Regions from separate parts of the Homo sapiens genome. Here region 1 is linked to region 2. A link means that fine-mapping ties the variant in region 2 to the plasma level of a protein whose gene starts in the linked region. Region 2 holds a variant in brackets. A gene starts in the other region. All regions are shown on their reverse strands.

Region 1 (16,864 bases), not on the chromosome of region 2:
ATTATCGTGCCTCAGGCTCCCGAGTAGCTGGGATTACAGGCACCTGCCACTATGCCCAGCTAATTTTTTATGTGTTTTTAGTAGAGACTGGGTTTTGCCATGTTGGCCAGGCTGGTCTCAAACTCCTGACCTCAGGTGATCAGCTGACCTCGGCCTCCCAAAGTGCTGGGATTACAGGGGTGAGCCACCGTGCTGGCTTTTTTTTTTTTTTTCTTTTGAGACAGAGTTTTTGCTCTTGCCACCTAGGCTGGAGTGCAATGGCAAGATCTCAGCTCACTGCAACCTCCGCCTCCGGGGTTCAAGCGATTCTCCTGCCTCAGTAACTGGGACTATAGGCACGTGCCACCATGCCCGGCTGATTTTTATATTTTTGGTAGAGGTGGGGTTTCACCATGTTGGCCAGGCTGGTCTTAAACTCCTGGCCTCAGGTGATCCGCCCACCTCAACCTCCCAAAATGCTGGGATTACAGGGGTGAGCCATCACGCCCGGCCTTGTTCTGCTTGTTTTGAATATGGATTTCATCCTGAAGCAGATGTAGAGCAACACAGAGTGGGTGAGACAGTTTTGTCTGTTCAGTTAGTAGGAGGTTTGTTTGTTTGTTTACAGATGGAGTCACCCTATATTACTCAAGCTGGTTTGTAACTCGTGAGCTCAAGCCATCCTTCCATGTCAGCCTCCTAACACTGGGAGGCTGCACAGGGATGCCCTGGTCGGCAGCTAGCTGGGACAACAGGTGCATGCCACACAATCGGCTAACTTTTTTAAATTTATTGTTTATAGAGATGGGGTCTTGCTATGTTGCCCAGGCTGGTCTCAAACTCCTGAGATCAAGTGATTCTCCCACCTCAGCTTCCCAAAGTACTGGGATTACAGGTGTGAGCCACCACACCCAGCCAATTTGTTTTATTTGTAGGAGCACTTTTTCTCCTTCAGACGCTAGATTAAATATCAATGGCATGAAATCAGTAAGACTTACTTGATTGCTTGCATAACAATCAAAATGGCATTTTCTTCAGAATGGACTTTAATATTATTAACTAAGGACCACCGGCCAGGTGCGGTGGCTCATGCCTGTAATCTCAGCACTTTGGGAGGCCAGTGCAGGCGGAGCACATGAGGTCAGGAGTTTGAGACCAGCCTGGGAAATATGGTGACACCTTGTCTCTACTAAAAATACAAAAACTAGCCAGGTGTGGTGGTGGGCGCCTGTAATCCCAGGTACTCAGGAGGCTGAGGCAGGAGAATTGTTTGACCCTGGGAGGCAGAGACTGGAGTGAGCCGAGATCACACCACTGCACTCCAGCCTGAGTGAGAGAGCAAGACTGTGTCTCCAAAAACAATAATAATAATAATAATAATAATTAAGGGTATTTTTAGAAGTTGGATTATCTTCAATATTTAGTCATTAATTTTCTCTTAAAAATTTGGGAAACATTTTGCCTATTCCTCAAAAAATTAAATGTAGAATTACCATTTGCTCCAGCAATTCCACTTGTGGGTATATTCACAAAAGAACTGAAAGCAGTGTCTCAAAGAGATACTTGTACACCCAAGTTCAAGCATCATTATTCACAATAGCCAAAAGGTGGAAACAGGCCAGGAGCAGTGGCTCACACCTGTAATCCCAACACTTTGGGAGGCCGAGGTGGGCGGATCACCTGAGGTCGGGAGTTCTAGACCAGCCTGACCAACATGGAGAAACCCCATCTCTACTAAAAATATTAAAAAATCAGTCTGGCTTGGCGGCAGATGCCTGTAATCCCAGGTACTTGGGAGGCCGAGGCTGGAGAATCGTTTGAACCCCAGAGGCAGAGGTTGCAGTGAGCCGAGATCGAACCACTGCACTCCAGCCTGGGAGACAGAGTGAGACTCCATCTCAAAAAAAAAGAAAAGAAAAAAGAATACACTAAGAAGTGACAGAATATTGGCACAGAGAATATCTTGAGTATTCTAAATATGTATGCCAATACTCCAATAATATCATAATAAAATTGTCATTGGAGTTGGCATGGAAGAAGCCCAGCGTGGCAGGTGGAGTAACAGCCCCACTAGATGTCTATGTCCTAATCCCCAGATCAGTGAGTACATGACCTTACATGGCAAAAAGAGATTTTACAGGTGTGATTAAGTTAATAACGTTGAGGTGGAGAAATTATCCCAGCCCATCCCAGTGGGCCTGATCGAATCATAGGAGTTGGCTTTTAGCAGAAAACCTTTCCCAGCTGTGATTAAGGAGAAATGTGATGATAGATGAAGAGTCAGAGAGATGCAAAGTGAGAATCCAGCCCACCATTGCTGGCTCTGCAGATGGAGGAAGGGGCCACAGCCAAGGAATACAGTGGCACATACAAGCTGGGAACAGCCCTCAGCTGACAGCCAATGAGAAAGCCAGGACCTCAGCCCTAAAACACAAGGAGCTGAATTCTGCCAACAACCCGAATGATCAGGAAATACGTTCTTTCCTAGAACATAAATAAAGGAACACAGACAGGGCTAGGAGGCCGAGGCAGGCAGATCACCTGAGGTCAGGAGTTCGAGACTGCCCTCAGCACCCCCTCAGCCTCCCTCCCATGCTCATCAGCGCCCAAAGTCCGGAGATGGCCAGTGTGGCAGGGGACTGGCACGTCAGCACTGCCCCAACACGGGCACACCCAGCCAGGTTCCAACAGCACCTGGTCTCGACCTCAACTTTGCTCTGAAATTGGAGTGGGCGCTGGAAACAGGGAGAAGCCAGGCAGCAGGAGCAGGCGCTTTGAGCCTGTGGGGGCCGGGGGCCTTCCAGGCCCCCCGAGAGCACAGGGATGCCCCGGTCTGCAGCTACAGCTGGGTGGCTGCTGATGTGCCTGGGAAGGCAGGGCTCCCCACCCTGCCAACTCAGAAGGGGCAGGGCTCCCGTCTGTTCCCAGCCCCTCCAGGTCCATGAAGGGCACAGACCCGGCCATGCTTCCCCCACTGCAGCTGGTGTCTTCACAGCGACCACTCCAGACGGGCCACTGCTGCCATCACTGGGACATCCCCCAGCTGTCATCCTTGTAATCCCTCTTGGGTTTCTCCTGATTTGGATTCCCCACATCCTGGATCTCTTGTCTTCCTCCTCCTCAGTTTACACCTTGTTTAGGTGAAACACATCTTCCAGTAATCTGGCCAGGTTAAAGAGCTAGTGCAATGACAGCACAATCACGACAGTCCCAGCTTTCCTATCTCTTGAGTCACAGTGTCACAATGAGCACTGACTGCCCTCTAGACTTGGCGCACAGTTATCCTTCCAGAATGTCCCTCACCATCAGCCTCAAGCTTTCCTTCAGTACTCCGCCATGTTCCACGTCTGCATTTCACAGACCACAGCTTGTGCTTTCTTGATTTTTTACTCTTTTAGCTGAAGAGCATCTTTCCTCTGGTGGTTTTCCAACAATCACGCATAGGGAGTACATTTTTTTCTCTTTTGTAGAGATGGGGTCTCACTGTGTTGCCCAGGCTGGTCTCCAACTCCTGAACTCAAGGATTCCTTCTGTCTCAGTCTCCCAAAGTGTTTCAATTACAGTCATGAGCCACCATGCCTGGCCAAATGTTCTGAGAACTTTCAAGCATGAAAATGTCTGGTTTTATTTATTTATTTATTTATTATTTTTTATTTTTTAGAGTCAGGGCTGCCACGGTGGCTCACGCCTATAATCCCAGCACTTTGGGAGGCCGAGGTGGAGAGATCAGGAGGTCAGGAGTTTGAGACCAGCCTGGCCAACATGGCGAAACCCCATCTCTACTGAAATACAAAAAATAAAAAATAAAAAAAGAAAGAAAAAGAAAAAGAAGTTACCTGGGCATGGCTGTGCCTGCCTGTAATCCCAGCTACTCAGAAGGCTGAGACAGGAGAATCGCTTGAACACAGGAGGCGAAGGTTGCAGTGAGCGGAGATCACACCACTGCAGTCCAGCCTGGGAGGCGATAGAGTGAAACTCTGTCTCAAAGAAAAAAAAAGAGTCTTGCTGTGTCGCCCAAGCTGTAGTGCAATGATGCAACCTCAACTCACTGCAATCTCTGCCTCCCAGGTTCAAGTGATTCTCCTGCGTCAGCCTCCCCAGTAGCTGGGATTACAGATGTGTGCCACCATGCCTGGCTAATTTTTGTATTTTTAGTAGAGACGGGGTTTCACCACAATGGCCAGGCTGGTCTTGAACTCCTGGACTCGAGTGATTGCCTGCCTCGGCCTCCCAAAGTGCTGGGATTAGAGGTGTGAGCCACCACACCTGGCCAAAAATGTCTGTATTTCACTTTCACACCTGACTGAGAGTGTGTGGCTATTGCTGCTTACTGACCAGCACCCTTCCCTCTTCCTTTCACCATGCCCAGCCATGACTTCTAACCTTAGAAAACTGTCCCCCTTCCAGAGAGTTGATAAATGTCCAATTCAATTTTTTTTTTTGAGACAGAGTCTCGCTCTGCCACCAGGCTGAAGTGCAGTGGCGCGATCTCGGCTCACTACAACCTCTGACTCACAGGCATGAGCCATGGCACCCCGCCCCAATTCTATTTTTGAAGGGAGGGACTGATTATTTTAAAAACATGGCCGGGCATGGTGGCTCATGCCTGTAATCCCAGCACTTTGGGAGGCCGAGGCGGGTGGATCACCTGAGGTCAGGAGTTCGAGACTAGCCTGGCCAACATGGCGAAACTCCATCTCTACTAAAAATACAAAAATTAGCTGGGCATGGTGGCACAGGCCTGTAATCCCAGCTACTAGCGGGGCTGAGGCAGGAGAATCGCTTGAACCTGGAAGGCAGAGGTTGCAGCGAGCCGAGATCGTGCCACTGCACTCCAGCCTGGGAAACAGAGCGAGACTGTGTCTCAAAAAACAAAACAAAACAAAACAAAACAAAACAAAACATAAAAATCTTTCTGGATTGTAATGCCCTCTTCATTTGTTTGGTGGGTGGTATGAGGAAGGGGCCCATTCTCAGCCCTGGGTCCGTGGGCTCCAGGTACAGGGACATGGAGGCGAGGTCTGGGTTCCCGATCCTCTAATCGCTGGCGTGGCTGTGCCTTGTTCTTCAGGAGCCCAAGTTTCCCTGGCGTCCTCGCTTTCTGATCTGCATCTTTTTTTTTTTTTTTTTTTTTTTTGAGACAGAGTCTCGCTCTGTCACCCAGGCTGGAGTGCAGTGGCGAGATCTTGGCTCACCGCAAGCTCCGCCTCCCGGGTTCAGGCCATTCTCCTGCCTCAGCCTCCAGAGTAGCTGGGTCTACAGGCGCCCACCACCGCGCCCAGCTAATTTTTTGTATTTTTAGTAGAGACAGGATTTTACCGTGTTAGCCAGGACGGTCTTGATCTCCTGACCTCGTGATCCGCCTGCCTCGGCCTCCCAAAGTGCTGGGATTACAGGCGTGAGCCACTGCACCTGGCCCTGATCTGCATCTTGACTTTTGTCACTTTCTTGATTTTAAGGCAGAGACACCCTTAGAGGAATGGGCTTAAAAGGAGGGTTGGGGAGCAGACACCAAGGAACACACAGAAAGGTGCCAAGAGGAAATAGTTACCTGCGAGGCTCTAAGACTGCCTCTGAGATCCCATCAGTGACCTGACCATAGGGTGCTGGAGAAATGTGGTCACCCAGACACTTTGAAACACTTTCCGTGGTTGATAATTATTATTCTCCTTTTTTTTTTTTTTTTTTTGAGACAGGGTCTCACTGTCTCCCAGGCTGGAGTGCAGTGTTGCAATCTCGTGTCATTGCCATCTCCGCCTCCCGAGTTCAAGTGATTCTCCTGCCTCAGCCTCCTGAGTAGCTAGGATCACAGGTGCCCGCCACCAAGCCCGGCTAATTTTGTATTTTAGTAGAGACGGGGTTTCACCATGTTGGCCATGCTGGTCTCGAACTCCTGACCTCAGGTGATCTGCCTGCCTTGGCCTCCCAAAGTGCTGGGATTCCCGGTGTGAGCCACTGCACCCAGCCCGTCGCGGTTTATAATTAGAGATTTCTCTGCTAAATGATGTTCTCTCTCTCACACTGAGGTGAGGTCTGTTTGGGTCACCTTTGTATTCCCCAAACCGGGGACAGTATTGGGCTCAAATCTGCTCAGAAATGACTGACTGACTGAATGAATAAATCAATACATGAATGAATACGTTTGGAGTCCCCTCTTCCCACTCCTCGCCCTCCCTCCTTCCCTCCAGACCCCCAGGGGCTGCCCAGCCCGCCTCCCACCCCCGACCCGGGAACTCCAGGGACTGGACGGGGAGGGAAGGGTGGGAGGAGGCGGTGGAGGCGGAGGCGGAGACGCGGGAGGGCGGGGCTAGGGAGGGCGATGCGGGGAGCCGGAGCCCGGACCATGAGGCTGGGAGCGCCCCTTCTGCACCCCTGGCCGCCCGCGCCGCGCCCCGCGCCCACCAGAGGGCAGCACCACGACGCGCGCGGACAAGGCTGAGGCGGGAACGGCCGCACCCCCAGCCCCGCCCGGAGCCGCCCGGCCCCGCCCCGCCCGCGAGTACCGACCCCCGGCGCCGGCGGGGAAACAGGTCCGGCGCCCCCGACCCCACGGCCCGGCCCCACTCTGTCTCTGACGTCAGCGCCGTGCCCCAAATAACTTCCTCCCCGAGCCTCTTCCGCCGCGGCGCCGCGCCCAGAGCCAGGCGGGGACACCGAAACGGTAACCCCGGCCCGGCCTTCCCGGAGCCGCTTCCGCCCCGCCTGGTGCCAGGAAGCCCCCGCCCCTTCCAAGGGATGGCAGCCGGGGCCCGGGTCGGCCGCCTGGGCCGCGCTGGCGCGCGCCTGAGGAACTTCTGGGGCCTGCTGTCCCGGGAGGAGGGTCGCTGCGGCCAACTCCGGACCCCGCCCCATGTCCCATCGCCTCCCCTGCCCTCGGCCCCGCAAACACCCCTGGCCTTGACTTTCCCACCAGCGCGGCCCAGCCCCACTGTGTTCCATCGGCGCTCAATAAAATACTGAATGAGGCCGGGCGCGGTGGCTCACCCCTGTAATCCCAGCGCTTTGGGAGGCCGAGGAGGGCGGATCACGAGGTCAGGAGATCGAGACTAGCCTGGCCAACACGGTTAAACCCCGTCTCTACTAAAAATACAAAAAATTAGCCGGGCGTGGTGGCACCTGCCTGTAATCCCAGCTACTCAGGAGGCTGAGGCAGGAGAATGGCTTGAACCTGGGAGACGGAGCTTGCAGTGAGCCGAGATTGCGCTCCAGCCTGGGCGACAGAGCGAGACTCTGTCTCAAAAAATTAAAAAAAATAATAATAATAATAATGAATGAAGCTGGACGGACTTCGCGTGCACCGCGGTCAGCTCGGGGTCTGCTGGGGGGTCTGGGTCAGCTCAGGGTCCAGGAACCGAGGCCAACGGCACCCCGTGCTGCGCTGGGGTGAGGGGTCTGCCCTGGGGTCTCGGGGTTCAGGGCTAGGTCACGGAGGAGTCGGCTCTGGGCGCTTCCTTCCTGAGGAGAGGAGCTGGGCAGGCCGGGCCGACGGGTTGGGCCGCATAGCCGGGCCTGTGCTCATCTCCAGCATAAAACTCCACTTCATGGAGCCTGCACCTCGCTCGTGCTCCAACGCTTCTGCCACCGCCGACCACGGCCCTGCGCCCCAGCCAGGCCTGAGGACATGAGGCGGCCGGCGGCGGTGCCGCTCCTGCTGCTGCTGTGTTTTGGTGAGTCGTGAAGGTGCAGGGTCCTGGTGGTGCAGTCCCCCACCAGGCTCCGCTGCACTGCCTGGGGCTCCGGCTCAGCCCCCTACTCCCTGGGACAGGCTGGGGCTGTGGGACAGGCCATCATCCCTCCTGCCCCTGAGCAGGTGGGAAGGCTCCAGATGTGCCAAGTGGGGAGTCCAAAGTGGGGAGGCAGGGTGGGAGGTGTGCGCACAGGCCCCAGAGGACCCCACCGGCATAACTGGGCAGCACCTCCTCCCATGCCTCTCCGCGGGCACTGGTGTGCCAGCTCTGGCCAGGCTCCCTGCTTCCTGCCACCTCGGCCTCTCCCCCCATTCTCTAGGTGAGGACAGGGGCCTCCTACGTGCAGGATGTGAACTCAGGCTCCAAGTGCCTGGACCATCATACTCGGGGTGGGAGGGTGGCCGAGCCGAGGGCTGCTGCCTGTGCCCGGAAGCCCCAGCAGGCTGGCTGCAGGCTCAGTAGAGAGCTGGGGGCAGGGGGTGTAGGTGGCAGAGGGCCCTGTCTCCTGCTGACAGAGGAACCGGTGATGCGCCACCGTGCCCTCTCCCAGTCCTGGGTCAGGGACAGCAGGTGCCAGCCAGGGGGCCCCACCTGCCAGGCCCCTCCCTGCGGGCCGGGACACTCTCTGTCAGGGAAAACCTCTCACATTCCTGGGCTAGCCTAGCCAGTCTGGCAGCCACCACACTTCCCTGTCCTCAAGTCACCTCCCAGGGCTGGGTCAGGTCATCCCAGGCTGCAGCTTAGCCAGTACTCCAGGCTTCCTTGTTCTCCTGGGTGGGAGGGCACCAGTGGCCCCTCAGTGGCCCGGCCTCCCCCACCCCATGCCCCCAGTCTCCCAGCACAAGGATGGTGCCCTCTGAGCAAGCCATGTGCACAGGAGGTGGAAGGCTGTGACTGCCCCTGAGCGGGGTGAGGAACCAAGGTCATTGCCAAAACTCTTTGGCAATGAGTTTTGCAGTCGGTTCACTAACAGCTGTGACCAGAGGCTGGACTCCTGGACACGTCCTCACTCCCAGCCCGAGGGTGGCACTCCCACCAGGTCTCTGGCTGGTGGTACCCACTAAGCTTCACCATCCCCACCAGCTACCAGCGAATCACAGGCCCAGGCCCCAAACAATGCTCCTGACACCCCCGGCACCCCTGGCTGTTGCTTCCAGCCCCCACAGGGCGCCCACCCTGAAGGGCTCAGCTGTCCACATCCCCCATTTCCCATCAGCCCCCACAGCCACACTTGTGTCCATCCACACATTCCCTGAGATCAGGCCCCCCAGATGCAGCCCTTGCCTTCTCGGAGCTCCTGGGCTAAGATAAGACTTGATTCTGGCTCCAGGGTGATGTAGACAGAGCTCCCATCAGGACAGAGAGCTCAAGAGAGAGTATAGGGCTTCCAAGGTAGACAATGCAAGCAAGCAAGGAAGGCTTCCTGGAGGAGGCAGCATTCAGTTGGGCCTTGATCTCTAGATCACGATTAGGACTTGGCTGGGAGCGGTGGCTCACGCCTGTAATGCCAGCACTTTGGGAGGCCGAGGTGGGCGGATCACGGGGCCAGGAGATCGAGACTATCCTGGCAAACATGGTGAAACCCCTCTCTACTAAAAATACAAAAAAATTAGCCGGGCTTGGTGGCGGGCCCCTGTAGTCCCAGCTACTCGGGAGGCTGAGGCAGGAGAATGGCGTGAACCCAGGAGGCGGAGCTTGCAGTGAGCTGAGATCGCGCCACTGCACTCCAGGCTGGGCAACAGAGTGAGACTCCATCTTAAAAAAAAAAAAAAAAAAAAGACTAGGACTTATGGAGACTGGGGGAAGGGCATCCAGATTGTGGGGTGAGGGGAGCAAGCACTCAGAGACCAGAAGACTCTGCCTAAATGAGAAGTACAGGGCTACTTTAGGAAGGAAGGATCTGCATGGGGAGGAGGCATCGCTGAAGGGGCAGTGCTCAGGCAGGGAGCATGGAGACACAGCTCCTGCAGACTCCCAGAGAGCGAGAAGGCCTGACAGTGCGCGCCCTTCTGCAAGCAGGATCCTCAGGCTTGGAAGGAGCAAGGGGTCGGGGGGCCAGGGAATAACCCTCCCGGTAGTGTTTGCATTTTAAAGGGCACTTAATTAGCACAAATTAATGAGCAGAGCATCCAGGGCAGACTCTCCATTTCCCGTTGCCCCTGACCCCGCTTCTGCAGGGCACCCCTTTGCCTGCCCTGCACCTTCTCCACCTCCTCCTCCTGCCCATCCACAGCTGCCCCCTCGCCGCCCGCTGCCTTATCGTCCAGCAACCCCCGGGGTGTCTCTGCCCACCAGTGGTGTTGGGGAGGGTGCCCCCCAGACTGTGAGGCAGACAGAAAGGAAGAGGATGCCGTAAAAACCCTGGGGGTGCTTGGGCCCTCCATGGCCACTTCCTGTCCCCACAGCCCCTCAACTCCAGGGGACTGGTTATCTTTTCCGGGCAGAGTGAAGACATGGTCCATAGCAGCTGGCCCGGGCACCGGAAGGCACTGGGGGTTAAGGGGAAGCTGAGGGCCTAGGTGTGGGGAGGTGGCTGTTCTAACCCCTCCCCAGCTACGGGCGAATCTTGCCCCCACAGAATCAGACGCGTGGAGTGCAGGGGTGGTGAGAGGACTCTCTCAAGGCCAGGAAGTTCCAGGCTTTGCTACCCTGGGGCTGTACACTATGGTCCTGGCTGGGGTCTCCAAGCTGGGGTAGAGGCTCCAGTGTTTGGTTAAAGGCCCAGCAAGAGGCCCTTTGTGTCCTGGGGTGTGGGAGGCAATGGACAGCAGAAAATATGTTCCCATCCTTGGTTCCCCCGAACGACCCCATATCTTGCTTCTCTTCCGGGCCCCTCACTTTATCCGCTCCAAAGCCCCCTTGCACAGCCCAGCAGGGGGTCCTGGGCCTCGTCTGCCAAGCCTGCTGCATGCCTGGGAGAGGGGTCAGCTCTTGGGACTCTGGAATCTTGAGAAGGCTGATCCCTGGTGGCCAATGCAGACCACTGTACCTTCTCTACTCCCCTGAGGCCAGGGAGAAGCCTGTGGGGCTCGGGCCTCAGCCTCGGGACCAAAGTGAGACTTGGGGAAGGAGCTCATTCCGGAGCAGACTGTGAGAGAGCCCTGGGCAGCTCAAATGTAGAGACAGCTCCCGGGCCTCTTCCGCTCTGAGCTGTTCCGGGAGGAAAGGCCAACCTTACAGTGCCAGGGCTGGAGGCTGGACCCTCCCCAGAAACTTCCAGACAAGGATGGGTGTGGAGTGTGGAGGGAGAGGACCCTTTCCAGGATGAGAAGGGGACATCTAGCCTGGGGATCCCTTCACTGGCATCTCCTGACCGGCTCCCCATGTGGCAAGGAGCATCCACCCTTGCAGATAAGCTGTGGCCCATGGGCCTGGGCCTGAGCATACGGCAGAGCCAGCCCTGGGGGGGAAACTGCAGGCCCTTGGGCTCTCCGGTGAGGTCCCTCTGTGGACTGTCCCTCTGGAGTCCTCAGGAGCTGGGGAGGGTCAGTGGAGAGGGGCTGCAGGGTTGGGGAGGGCAGGCCAGGCTGCAGCTGGCCTGGCTGATCACCCTCTCCTCACTTCCAGGGTCTCAGAGGGCCAAGGCAGCAACAGGTAAGCACCCAGGGCCCTGGGGTGGGAGGGACAGGAGCCGGCTGGACTGAGCCAGGGACACTCATGGCCAGAGGGAATTTGGAACGCACAGGACACTGGGGAATTCCAGAGGAGGGGAAAGTGGGGGCTGTGTGGAACTGGAGCCCAGAAAGGAGAGGAGGAGGAAGGTCCACACAAGAGCAGGACGGGCAGCACAGAGCCTTGAGGCGCGGTGCAGGATGAGGGCGGCAGGGTCTGAGGATCACCCTGAACCGTGACTGGCCCCCTCTGGGTGGCTCCCTTGCAGAGGGCTTGACACCTGTTCTATCCTTCCAGGCACCTGTTTGGGTCAGGCCCTGGGACAAGACCCTTCCCTGGGTTATCTCAGTGCCTCCGTGGCCCCCAAGAGGCAGGTGTTAGGTTGCCTTTCTCGGCGAGGAGAGTGAGACTTTGGGGGGCAGCTGGGGAGGGTCTGCCTGTATCCCAGACTGCCCCGAAGCCCAGGCCTCCGACTTCCCCAAGGTCTTCGGGCAGGTCAGGGGCAGGAGGGCCGAGGACTGGAGTGTGAGGCTGAGAGCTGGGCCTCGGCCATGGAACCAGCCCCAGTGAGCGCCCCCACCCGCTCCCCATGCTCCCCCAGCCTGTGGTCGCCCCAGGATGCTGAACCGAATGGTGGGCGGGCAGGACACGCAGGAGGGCGAGTGGCCCTGGCAAGTCAGCATCCAGCGCAACGGAAGCCACTTCTGCGGGGGCAGCCTCATCGCGGAGCAGTGGGTCCTGACGGCTGCGCACTGCTTCCGCAAGTGAGTCCGCCCGCCCCTGCCCCCGCCCATAGCGCTGACAGCGCCCCGCGCGCGACCGGTTCAGCACCGTGGACAGCGCCCGCCGCGCCAAATCCTGCGGGTGACCTCCCTGGGGGCTCCTGGTCCAGCCCCTCCCACCCAGATGCTTCCCTTAGGTCCAACTCCAGGGCTAACTTCCAGTTGCAACCGCTGCTCCCGCCCGCGGGAGGTGCCTCGCACCGCCCCCCGACCCCCTCCATCCCCTCCACCCACTCACCCACTCCCTGTGGGTCCCTGCAGAAGCGGCCCGGCAGGCTCTGCCCACCGGCCCCTCCTGGCCTTTCCCCATCCCGCACACACCTCAGCTCCAGGACACTCTTCCCGGGAGGAACTCTGCTCACAAAGCCCAAGGACCAGACAGAACGGCCCTTCCTCCCCTCACCCACCTGAACCACCCCAGAAAGCCCTGAGCAGAGGCCAGGCCACCCAGCCCTCTGCCATGTATGAACCACCTGGTCCCACACCTTCCGGGTGTCCCAGGCCCCCTCACCTCACACCTCAACACCGCAGCTCTAATTATTTTAAACCCCACATCTTTTTCTTTTTTTTCTTCTTGATCTTTAAAAGAATATCATGACAAAAAAAACCCCACATCTTAAATTCAGATACTCACGGCCAGGCACGGTGGCTCACACCCGTAATCCCAGCACTTTGGGAGGCCAAGGCGGGCAGATCAGTTGAGCCCAGGAGTTCAAGACCAGCCCGGGCAACACAGCAAGACCCTGTCTCTACTAAAAATAAAAAAAAATTAAAAAACAAAAAACAAACAAACAAAAAAACCCCAGGTGCAGTGGTGCCTGTGGTCCCAAGTACTCAGGAAGCTGAGGCGAGAGGATGGCTTGAGCCCAGGAGTTGGAGGCTGCAGTGAGCTACAGTTGCACTGCTGCACTCCAGCCTGGGTGACAGAATGAGAACTCTGTCTCTAGGGGAAAAAAAAAATCGGAAACTCGGGCTGAGAGAGGGCAGGTCACCTGCCAGAGGCCCGCAGGTGGGGCTGGCCCTGCTGCACCTGGAGGGTGGTTCTCTCCGAGCCAGCCTTTCAGGTAGGCACTGTGACTGTCCCCACAGCACAGGTGAGAAAGCTGCATCACAGAGAACTTGTTAAGTGACTTGCCCAAGGCCACACAGCGGCCAGGGGTGGAGGTGGAAATCTGAGTCGGGCGGTCTGGCTTCAATGTCAACACGCATCACCGCTGCACCTGGCTGTCCTAGAGATGACTCTCGAAGACATTGTGCAGAGAGAGGTGTGGGGCACGGTGGTGGCCAGAGGAGCCCCAGCCCCTCCCGGGCCTGTCCCCACACGAGGGGCCGCCTCACGCCGCCTCTCTGTTTCTCCCGCCAGCACCTCTGAGACGTCCCTGTACCAGGTCCTGCTGGGGGCAAGGCAGCTAGTGCAGCCGGGACCACACGCTATGTATGCCCGGGTGAGGCAGGTGGAGAGCAACCCCCTGTACCAGGGCACGGCCTCCAGCGCTGACGTGGCCCTGGTGGAGCTGGAGGCACCAGTGCCCTTCACCAATTACATCCTCCCCGTGTGCCTGCCTGACCCCTCGGTGATCTTTGAGACGGGCATGAACTGCTGGGTCACTGGCTGGGGCAGCCCCAGTGAGGAAGGTAAGGGGACAGGGCTGGGAAAGAATGGGGGATATGCCTCAAGAAGGCCCAGGACGGCTTGGGGACCACTCTGAACCCACAATCTTCCTGTTGCTATATTAATACATACACACGGTCTCTGTTCACACAGGTGGGGCCGAGGGGAGCAGCAGCAGACCCAGAAGGAAGAGGGGGTGAAGGGAGAGGGGGACAGAAAGGGCCCAGCCTGCTGCCTGGAAGGAGGGAGGATGTCTGCCCCACAGTGCCCTAAGCCAGAGATGGTCTAAACATGAGGAAACGACAGGCAGGATGGAGTGGTGGTTCCCGGGGCCGTGGGTTCTTGATGAGGAAGTCCGTTGAGCCCTGGGCTGTTCCGCCCCTCTCCAGACCTCCTGCCCGAACCGCGGATCCTGCAGAAACTCGCTGTGCCCATCATCGACACACCCAAGTGCAACCTGCTCTACAGCAAAGACACCGAGTTTGGCTACCAACCCAAAACCATCAAGAATGACATGCTGTGCGCCGGCTTCGAGGAGGGCAAGAAGGATGCCTGCAAGGTGGGAGCAATGTGGTGTCCATGGGGACTCAGTCCCCACCGCCAGGCCCAGGGCAGGGTGGGATCATGCCCCGCTCCATGGGCTATGCATTCAACCAGCTGAGCAGCTTGTTTTGAAAAGGCAGATTCCAGGGCCGGGTGTGGTGGCTCACGCCTGTAATCCCAGCACTTTGGGAGGCCAAGGAGGGTGGATCACAAGGTCAGGAGATGGAGACCATCCTGGCTAACACAGTGAAACCCCATCTCTACTAAAAATACAAAAAATTAGCCAGGCGTGGTGGTGGGCGCCTGTAGTCCCAGCTACTTGGGAGGCTGAGGCAGGAGAATGGCGCGAACCTGGGAGGCGGAGCTTGCAGTGAGCCGAGATCGCGCCAGTGCACTCCAGCCTGGGCCACAGAGCAAGACTCCGTCTCAATAAAAAAAAAAAAGAAAAAGCAGATTCCTGGACCCCACCCCAGAAGGATCAGAGTCAGTGGGTCTGGGGTGGGGCACAAGAAACTGCATTTTCAACACACACACACACCCTAGTTGATCTGGGGACACTAAAGAATAGGCACTTTAGACAATCGGACTGGCAGGGGATGGGGAGCCGGGCAGAGAGGCTCTGGGATGGAGAGAAGGAATCCATTGCGGAGCTACACACCTCCTGTGCGGCTGCAACTGAGTCTCTGGGAACTCAAGGTGGGCTCTGACGGTGACTCTGCGTCCCCCGCAGGGCGACTCGGGCGGCCCCCTGGTGTGCCTCGTGGGTCAGTCGTGGCTGCAGGCGGGGGTGATCAGCTGGGGTGAGGGCTGTGCCCGCCAGAACCGCCCAGGTGTCTACATCCGTGTCACCGCCCACCACAACTGGATCCATCGGATCATCCCCAAACTGCAGTTCCAGCCAGCGAGGTTGGGCGGCCAGAAGTGAGACCCCCGGGGCCAGGAGCCCCTTGAGCAGAGCTCTGCACCCAGCCTGCCCGCCCACACCATCCTGCTGGTCCTCCCAGCGCTGCTGTTGCACCTGTGAGCCCCACCAGACTCATTTGTAAATAGCGCTCCTTCCTCCCCTCTCAAATACCCTTATTTTATTTATGTTTCTCCCAATAAAAACCCAGCCTGTGTGCCAGCTGCCCACGTGGGGATCCTTGGGGGACCCCGGCGGGTGAGGAGCTGTGAGTTGCAGGATGAAGCCCAGGTGGGAGATGCGGAGTGCTCTGGTCATCTCTGAATCAGCAGAAGGGAGCTGCAGCTGGTGCCCGAGGCGAGGACAGCACCAGAGTATGGGACCCCTGTCACGGGCCCCGCACAGGAGGCCACCTGCTGCCACCTGTGCCTCTGTTCTCTCACCTTAAAGGCCGCCCCAGGGTTGGCACTGGGGACAGCGACGGACACAGGTGGAAAGAGCCTCAGGGCCATGCAGGAGCTGTGCCGGGGCGAGAGGAGGGCATGGAGGGACTGGCTGGGCGGGGGCACCTCAGCCTCCCAAGCCTGCACTTCCGGCTGCCCGTGTCTCGGGGCCACCCAACTTTTCTAAACCACTTCGGCAGGAGTGGGTGCCCACACCTGTGCTTTCCTGCTCCACTGCTCCTGGCACCCTTCGTCTCCCTGTGCCCCGGCGTCTCCCCTTGACCCTTGGCTCCTCTTCCTCCGCCCCATCCCTCAGTCTCCACCCCCATGCAGGAGTCCAGAGCAGTGCGTGGTGGCAAGGGGATTAGGCTGGACATGCACATCACACCCACACGCACCCGTGCACACACACACAGGCACCGTGGCCTGTACAGCGGCAGGAAGAAATCAGGCCCTGAGTGTCCACCAAGGAATCAAACCAACACCCACTCAGCAAGCAGCTGCTGGGGACACCGTGGGGAGCAAAACAGAAGGAATTCCCCGCTGGGCCCGACCCATCTCCCCAACGGCTGCCCAGTGGCCCCCGTGGGCCATTTCTTGCACTCCTCCAGCCCAGGGGTGGGTGGGCAGGTCTGGGGGGCCTGTGCGCACAGCCCCATGGGGGAGCAGATGCACGAAGCCCAGGTGGAGGGAGAGGCAGGCCCAGGGAGCAGCACTGGGTGGTCCTAGCCAAGCAGGGACTGGCCAGGCCTCCCAGCCTCGGAGAGCCCTGGGTGAACCTGCACCCTGCTCTGGGCTGTGCAAGGAGCCCCAGGCCCCCGTGGTCAGAGGGGAGGCTACAGGTTAGATGGTCTAGGGAGGGCAGCCCCTGCTGTCTTTGTGCTGAGACCCCACCCAGACCCAGGATGTCAACAGGCAGATGCCCGTGGGAGAGGAGCAGAAAACACTCTCTACAGAGACTAGGGGTTGAGAAGGGAAAACAGGGCTATTTCATGCAATTAACAGCTCCCACGAAGCATGCCGTGAGAAGGACGTTAGGAAGGGAATAGTCCAGGTTGCCACAGGTCCCTTTTCCATCCTGGGGCGGGGGTGCAGCTCAGACTTTGCACGCTGCTGCCAAGCAGGGCTCTGAGCCATCTGCCAGGTGGGCGGCAGCAGGGCCCCTGCCAGCTCCAGGAGGGACTCGAGGGAGAGCCTGGCACAGGCCCGCGCACATTCTGTGGCTCACAGGGAGGTAGGCAGAGCGGGCGGCAGCCTTCATCCCCAGGCTCAGCTGGCCCATGTGCACACATACACACACCATT
Region 2 (8,000 bases):
TTGTAATATTTTATTTCTTAAAGGAAAAAATATCTAATATGGGATAAGGTTCACACTTGATAAATCTGGCTGATTATCACATGGAGGTCTGTTATATTAATTTTTACATATTTGAAATATTTTCATATAAAAAAAAGAACGAGGGCCAGGCACAGTGGTTCACACCAGTAATCCCAGCACTTTGGGAGGCCAAGGCAGGTAGATTGATTGAGTTCAGGAGCTCGAGACCTGCCTGACCAAAATGGTCTCTACTAAAAAATACAAAAATTAGCCGAGCGTGGTGGCACATGTCTGTAGTCCCAGCAAATCGGGAGGCTGAGGCAGGAGAATTGCTTGAACCCGGGATGCAGAGGTTGCAGTGAGCCGAGATCGTGCCACTGCACTCCAGCCTGGGTGACAGAGCGAGTCTCCATTTCAAGGAAAAAAAAAAAAAGGAATGGAGATTGAAGAAATATAAATTCAGAAGCTAAATAATGAAAGATTAATACACTCACATAAAGTTTAAGTGAGATACAGAGAGCAAGTGAGCAAGCTCATACTTAAAAGAGTAAAAAACTAAGAAGTGCATTTGCAAGATGTACATATATTAACTTATCAGTTAATTCCCTTAGCCTATAACATACTCATGCAAGTCTACCCCCCACTCCCCAAACAATGAAGGAACATAATTTAAAAATAAGCTAAGGCTATGAATATATACTTTACTGTAGAGAAATATAAATGGCACATAAGACATTTATCTACATTTAAAACTTCCGGTGTGGTTGAGATACCATTTTTCACAAATAGTAACAGCAAAAAACAAGGGTCCTGAGCTACACAGTGCTGGGGGAGTGTGGGAAGCAGGACCTCTCACAGATGTATGCTGGAAGTGAAAACCAGGCCACCTTCTGGGAAGACATTTCACAATATTTATCAAAATACCCTTTACCCCGGGGCTTCCGTGCCAGAAGCTTATTCCACAGAAAAGTTTCCTATATTTGCAAAGAGACTTGTCTGTTAGGATCTTTACTGCAGCACTTTTTCTAACAGCATAAGATGGAAACATGAAATCTATGCACAGGCACCTGTTTTAAAAAATTAGGCACACACAACGAAACACTATGCAGCTGTGAAAAATAGGATGCAAATCGATGCATGCTGATGTCAACTGATCTCCAAAGCATAATATTAAGATGTAAAAGGCAGGTGTAAAACAGTGATCTCCAAATGCACTTTCACAAAAGAATTACATGCATATTCAGATACATCTTATGTGAATAGAGTACTCAGAAGGATGCAAAACAAGGCTATTGCCTCTCAAGAGGGCGGGTGGGAGAGTGACTTTCTCTCATATTCCCATTTGTACTGCTTAACTGTTTCAAACTGATGAGTGTGATACATTTTGAAGTAATAATTTGATTAAAATAAAAAAAAGGAAGAAGAAAAAATAAGGAATGTAAATGTTGAAGTCTCACACTTGGACCTGAATTCTGGACCAACCATCACTTCTGGGAGTGTGAATGACCTTTCCGGGTCTCAGGTTTTCCACTGGGTAAATAGGGATTTTAAAAAATGGCACTATCAGCCAGCACGGTGGCTCATGCCTATAGTCCCAGCACTTTGGGAGGCCAGGCGAGCGGATCACCTGAGGTCAGGAGATCGAGACCAGCCTGGCCAACATGGGGAAACCCTATCTTTACTAAAAATACAAAAATTAGCAGGGCGTGGTGGCACACACGTGTAATCCCAGCTACTCGGGAGGCTGAGGCATGAGAATCGCTTGAATCCAGGAGGCCGAGGTTGCAGTGAGCCGAGATCACACCACTGTGCTCCAGCCTGGGCGACAAGAGTAAAACTCTGCCTCCCCCCCCCAAAAAAAAGAGAGAGAGAGAAAGAAAAAGGCACTATCTTGAAGGGAGGTTGCTTGAGCAAACAACGTACCTCCAAAGACAATTACTGAAATGGAAGCAGCTGATCTCAAGCCCTAGAACACGCATCACCTGTGCCTCTCACTGACTAGCCCTACTTGCCCTCCTTGTGTCCTACCCTGAGGACAGAAACAGCAGGTGGCAGAGCACCAGCCACAGTATGCACCCTGGGCAATCACGGCCTGGCCAGGGTGGCAAGTGAGGCTGGGCTCCAGCCCTCCCCCTACTTGCCAAACTGTATGCTCTGGTGCAGGGCTTCTCCAACGGGGTGGGGGAGGGGTGTGTGTGTTACCGTTCCTAATTTACAGGAAAGTGCTGTAGAGATTAGCAGCAACACCATTCAGAGCAGCTAACTTCCTCCTCTCCTCTCCAAGTTAAAACAGTGGGGTGCAAAGATCTGAGCGTGCAAAGGCCTGGGCATCGCCAGAAGCACCCCAGGGGAAGCTGGCAGAGCCACCCACCAGTGTTTGTCTTTCTCCATGCCATTTCCCCTGTACTCACAAGGATACCCTTCTCATGAGCAGGTGTGGCTTCTGTAGAGCTGGCTCCAGCCACCTTTTGTCCAGCTGTACCCACTTCCTAATTCCGGCACAGCTGGCCAGCCCTCTCTAAAGTGAGGTCACCCACAGGACTAACCTGTGTCCCAGGAGAGCCACGGAGGTCACATCACTCCTTCCCTACTTGTTCCACAGAAGGGCTGACGGAATAATACCCCTGTCCCAGCGCAGGCTGGGGACCCCAAGGCCTCCCCAGACTGTGAGGCTGGACAAGTCAGCAGAAACAGGAGCCACAGGGCCTGAGGGCCGACTGCGAGCAGGTGACTGACTTGGACACTGTGGCATGGCAGAATCTGGGATTTCTTTTTAGTAGAGATGGGGTTTCACCATATTGGCCAGGCTGGTCACTGACTCCTGATGTCAGGTAATCCTGTCTCAGCCTCCCCAAGTGCTGGGATTACAGGCATGAGCCACCACACCTGGCCCTGGATTCACTTTTAAAAATCATCCCTGGGGCTGTGCTGCAGGTGCTGTGCATAATCTTTTTTTTTTTTTTTGTGAGACAGTCTCACTCTGTGGTCCAGACTGGAGTTCAGTGGCGTGATCTTGGCTCACTGCAACCTCCACCTCCTGAATTCAAAGGATTCTCCTGCTCAGCCTCCCAAGTAGCTGGGATCACAGGCGCGCGCCATTATGTCCAGCTAATTGTTGTACTTTTAGTAGAGATGGGGTTTCACCATGTTGACCAGGCTGGTCTCAAAATCCTGACCTCAAGTGATCCACCTGCCTTGGCCTCCCAAAGTGCTGGGATTACTGGTGTGAGCCACCACACCCGGCCTGCTATGCATAATCTTATTGAAGTTTTCAACCAATGGATGTGGGATTACTCTTTCATTCTCATTTACAGATGGGGAAACTGAGGCACAGAGCAAATACATTAAGGGTCCCAAGATCAGAGAGCTCAAAAATGGTGGAACCAGGATTTAAAATTCAGCCAGAACTACTTTTAATCCCTACACTCTATGCACCTCAGATCTTCAGAGTCCTCGTCTTTTAAATGGGGGTAACAGCAGCAAGTCCTCAGAGGTGTCCTGAGCCTCAAAACACATCCTGGTTTGTAACGTCCGCAGCCTCAGCAGGGGCTAGGCACAGAACAAGCATTCAGGACCTGGAAGGTACCAGCGACACCTGGTCCTCCCTTCCCAGGCACAAGGCAGCCCCTCTCCATTCAAGCTCTGCCCCAGCCCAGCAAAGAGAGGGGTCCTCAGCCACTGCCCCCACCACTACCACAATCATACTCACCTCTCCTGGTCCATA[C/T]GTGACAAAGGACCTGCCACGGCCAGGGAGACAGGCAGAGGCACTGCCACTCCCACTCTGCCCTGCCCTCGACTCAGATTCACCCATGGCCCAGCCTCAGGAGACGCTGCTGGGGTGTGGTGGCATGCAGAAGGGGAGGGGGAGGAGGCCTCTAGGGAGGTGGCTTTCCATCTGTCTGTCTGGGTGTAGCACCTCCTGGAGTTGGTGCCAGGCCCTGACCAGTTCCGCCCCATTCAGCCTTCCCAGAAGGGCTGGCACACGGATCCCTCAGCCTGACCAGACACCAGCCTCCTGTCATGAGCGGTGCTCCATCTCCACCACGGTGCCCCCTACAGGCAGGCCCCCCACACCTGAGCAGAGTCCACTTCCAGAACAGTGCTCCCTCTGCAGATGACACACTCTATCCAAACCCAGTACCCCAAAATCCCCAAGCAGGGACAGCAAAGGCAACGTTCAGCCCTGCAGGTGCCACAAATTCCAGCCCTGCCCCACAGTACAGCCTCTGAATTCAGGCTCTCGGCTCTGCTTTTAAGAGTTTTGGAGCAGTGGTTTCTGCGCTCACCCTGCCTCCTCCCGGAAGGAACCCTCACTCGGCAGACCTTGCACTCCCGCCTCCCCTCACCAGAACATCTGCTGGGCACTGAGACGGACACCATGGTCAGCCTGGTGCTTGATGAACAAGGATGTTTCCAGACCTGTGCAGCTGAGGGTTCGAGGGTCCACACCTGAAGTCTCATTAGGAGCCAGCAGGGTTAAAGGGGCTGAGCGAGTGAGAGGCAGACTCGCCAGAGGGGAGGGCCCTGCACACGGGAAGGAGAGTGGAACAGGGCCCCCAGATGAGGACTCAATGAAGACGTGGGAAGCGGGGTGAGGAAAGCAAGCCCCACCCCTCCCCATGTCAGTAACCTACACAGGCTTCTCCAGCACAAACACATTGGTCCCTACTCAGACACCCGGGAACCAGATCACACAGACACAGGCATGCGCACACACACACCCAGCTCTCAGTCCTCCTCCTCTCTGCACGCCCCCACCACCCCATGCCCACATACAGCTTCCAGGGCTTGAGGGGCTCCCCCAGCCAGGGCACTCTCTTCCTCCATTCCTCAGGGCTGGCCGTGGGCCGGGCTCAGCTACAGCAGCTGCTGCTGCTTTACCTCCCCCAGGCCCACTGGGTTCCTCCCACCCCAGCTCTGGCTCGTATAGACTTTGTTTGTCAGCTTGCAGGTCCCTGGGAGCTATCACCAGGCAGCCCGGAGCCTCTAAGGGGCAGGGAGTGGCTGTGCCAGCCCTCAGGAACCTCGTTCCTCCAAAGTCACGGAAAGGGGAATCCTGGGCTCCTCGCCCTCTGCCCAGCCAGGCTCAGCTCCCAGAAAGATTCTGGCACCTGAGAGGAGACCCAGCCACGCCTATGAGCCCCACAGGTGTGTCCCCAGCAGGCCTGGAGAGTGTCCCAGGGCAGCCTGTGGCCATTTGGCCGAGGGTACTGCAGAGCCTGCTGCCCCATGGAGGGCACTTCCTGGCCCGGCGCCCACACAACACACACTCACTGTCCTCTGGGCCCGTCTCAGCCTCTCTGCACCTGTGCCCAGTCCCAGTGACAGGGACTGTCCTCTCAGCCCACCCGGCACCCAAATCCAGGAACCTGCAAGGCCTTCCTCCAGCTGCCCCACCAGCCTGCTCACACTTTCTGGGCTCAAGCCCTGAGGCTTTAGCAATTTCAGGGTCATCTGCACCCATAACTGGGAGGGTGATGGGAGGGACAGATACCGGCCTGTCAGGGCCTGGTCACTACCTGGGGACAGAGGATTCCAGAGCCTACAACTGGTTCAACAGGTCTGGGCTATGGCCCACACCCACCTCTGCACACAGAAGCCAGCCCAGGGTCCCATGGAATATCCCAGGGCAGAGACACTAAATCAACTGAAGGCGATGCCAGGGGTCATGCCAAGTGCCTGAACTCTGGCTTCTCCATCATCTGTGAGGCCCCAACACCATGCCCTGCGTAATCTAAGGTCCTGGCCAGCGCCTCCTCCTCCTCCCAGCCCTGAGGAACCATCCTTGTCCTCAAGGTGGAAGAGCTCGGCCCTCAGTCCCCTGCAGCCTGGGATGAGCCCCACCCTCAGGGCTGGTGCACAACCAGAGGCTCTTCCCAAGGAAGCCTGGTGCCAGAAAACCCACACACTGAGGCACAGGCCAGACACAGAGCCTGGGAACACCCAGGAGAGCATGTCCCCCAGGGTCCCAGCCCCAACCGAAGCTGGGAGAGCCCAGAACCACCCGCCACCCAGTCCTCCTGGCCGCCCCTGCATGGCTGTTTCCTCCTGCCCAGGAGGAGCTGAAGGGATCTCAGCCCAGGACGTGATCCTCCCACCCCCACCCCCGAGAACACACCCAGGACTGGCAGCTCACCTGACCCTGCAGGGCTGCCAGTCCAGCTGTGCCCCAAAGAGAACATTCACTTCTTGCTCTATTTGGACAGCTGCAGGGTCAGCGATGCTCAGGAGAGAACGTCTGGTCACAGAGTGGGGAGTGCGGTGATCAGGGCCACAGGCCCTCTGATGGGGGTGGGCCAAGGCCAGAGCTGCATCCCTGGATGAGTGGGCTGAGAGGGGGCCCGGGACCAGCCTGGCAGGGCACAGGGAAAGGCTGCAGTTATTCTGCCCTCCTGAGCACAAGAGGAGTGGTCAGAGGGATTCTGGAACCAGGGCTGGGGCCTGGGGGAAGGCAATGGAAGCCAGGAGTGAGGGAGGAAATGGATTCCCCTTTTAATGGCATTTATTCAGTTACAGGCTGCGGCCAAGGAACAGCCTCCCACATCCAGCCCAACACCTGACCTCACCTCACCCCAGACAGGTCCCACGGCCCCTCCTCAGCCTATCCAGGACTGGTGGGAAAGGTCCAAAGAAAAGAAGACAAAGCATCCACAAGCAGAAGTCGGTGGCTGGACTCCACCCTCCCCTCCCCAGGAAGCAGGAGGCAGAACTGGGAGGTCAAGACCAGCACTTCCCCCTCCTGCTCCCACCCTCTCCTCCTCTCTGGCCCTCGTCTCCTGCCCTCTCCTCCCGGTCCCTGTGTCCTTTCCAGCCATCCCATCCTGGTGTCTCCTGGTCCCCATCTCCACCTCCTCCTCCTTTCCTCCTCTGCCCACAGCCCCTGGTTATGTAAGGGGCTTGGGAACACACAGAGGGAGCTTTGTTGTCAAACCAAATCCATATGGAGCCGGAATGGGCCAGCGCAGCTGTTCCCCATTCCCTCTGCCTTGGCAGGGTTGGGACTCCGGGCAGGGAGCCCCTGCACCCCGCCATTTTGGGAGATGGGGGACAAACACTTGCCCCAGGGCCGCCAGGCAGCTGAATGAGTGGTCAGGGATCAGTCTCCACTGTGTGGAACCACAGCAGGGGACCAGCTGGTCCCTAAGGCAGAACAAAGCCACAGTACAAAGCGAGGGTCACAAAGCCAACAGAGGCAAGCTCTGGGCTGGGGCAGGGCGACACGGTGCCGGGCCTGGGAGGGTGGGGAGTGTATCCAGACCCTCACACAGAACACTGTTGTGTGCTCACCTCAATGGGGTCTGAGAGTAGAAAACTGTGTTGGCCAACTCCCCTCATTCGAGCAGCTTCCCCTGGGAGAAAGAGCTCAAGAGAGAGGAGGGTGGAGGGTTCAGGTCCCAGGCTAGGGAAGCTTAGTCAGCCCATCTTTGGAGACCCTGAGGCCCCAGAAAGACAAGATCCCACCGTCCTTTGCAGGAAGATGTCCAAAGAGTTGCATGAGGGCTCAGGAGCTGAGCTAAAGATAAAAGCATTGCATACTTTGGGCAGGCACTGTCTCTTCGCCAAACTCAACTCCTGGAAGAGCCATTTTTGTTCGAAAATGCTGGAGCTGCCAACAGGAGGAGCTGACTCCTGCTCCCATGGGCTCCCAATGAAGGCTCTCCTGAACATTCCCGGCCTCCAGGCAACCCAACCCAGCCACCCCCAGAGTCCCAGTTCCACTATGAGGACAACCTGAATGCTGAGGCTGGAGAAAAAAGGCAGATCAGAGAAGCAAGGGCAAGGAGAGAATGCAGAGGAGGCAGAAAGGAAGGAGGAGGGATCACTGAAGATGGTGAGAAATCTAGGGGTGGAAAGAGAAGGCAGACAGAAAGGGATTGAAGAAGAAGAGCACGGCTCAAACAGGGACAGGAAGGAGATGGGGGCAGGAGGTCTAGAGAAACGGCCCACACTGCCTGTGAGGACAATCTCCCATACTCCATCAACACCCGCTCCTCGGCCAG

Which allele goes with the higher level. Alleles are on the strand shown, and positions count from the first base shown. The strength of an association depends on the size of the effect and on how common the allele is.
With allele T in place of C in region 2, the plasma level of the protein whose gene starts at base 7,537 in region 1 is lower (weak association).

What was found. PIP is the posterior inclusion probability: the model's chance that the variant is causal. Protein levels are from antibody-based Olink assays in UK Biobank. Linkage for the fine-mapping came from a reference panel and not from the study's own genotypes, which makes the PIPs less certain.
Region 1: it holds the start of PRSS27, and the variant in region 2 is fine-mapped to the plasma level of the PRSS27 protein (UK Biobank, PIP 0.92).

What each region holds. Positions count from the first base shown.
Region 1 is chr16:2,710,897-2,727,760 of GRCh38, reverse strand. It overlaps PRSS27 (serine protease 27), which reads left to right and starts at 7,537. Exons shown (of 6, transcript NM_031948.5): 1 at 7,537-7,646; 2 at 11,235-11,261; 3 at 11,881-12,043; 4 at 13,425-13,696; 5 at 14,063-14,232; 6 at 14,947-15,339. The coding sequence starts at 7,601. The coding sequence ends at 15,141. RefSeq lists silencers at 5,154-5,323, 6,007-6,076, 6,207-6,966, 11,821-11,870, 11,951-12,000 and 1 more and an enhancer at 6,700-7,267.
Region 2 is chr11:126,363,111-126,371,110 of GRCh38, reverse strand. All of the region lies in intron 1 of ST3GAL4 (ST3 beta-galactoside alpha-2,3-sialyltransferase 4), which reads right to left. Among named protein-coding and RNA genes, the nearest start is that of ST3GAL4, 11 kb to the right of the region's middle. RefSeq lists an enhancer at 6,008-6,525. The variant C/T (reference allele first, on the strand shown) is at 3,725.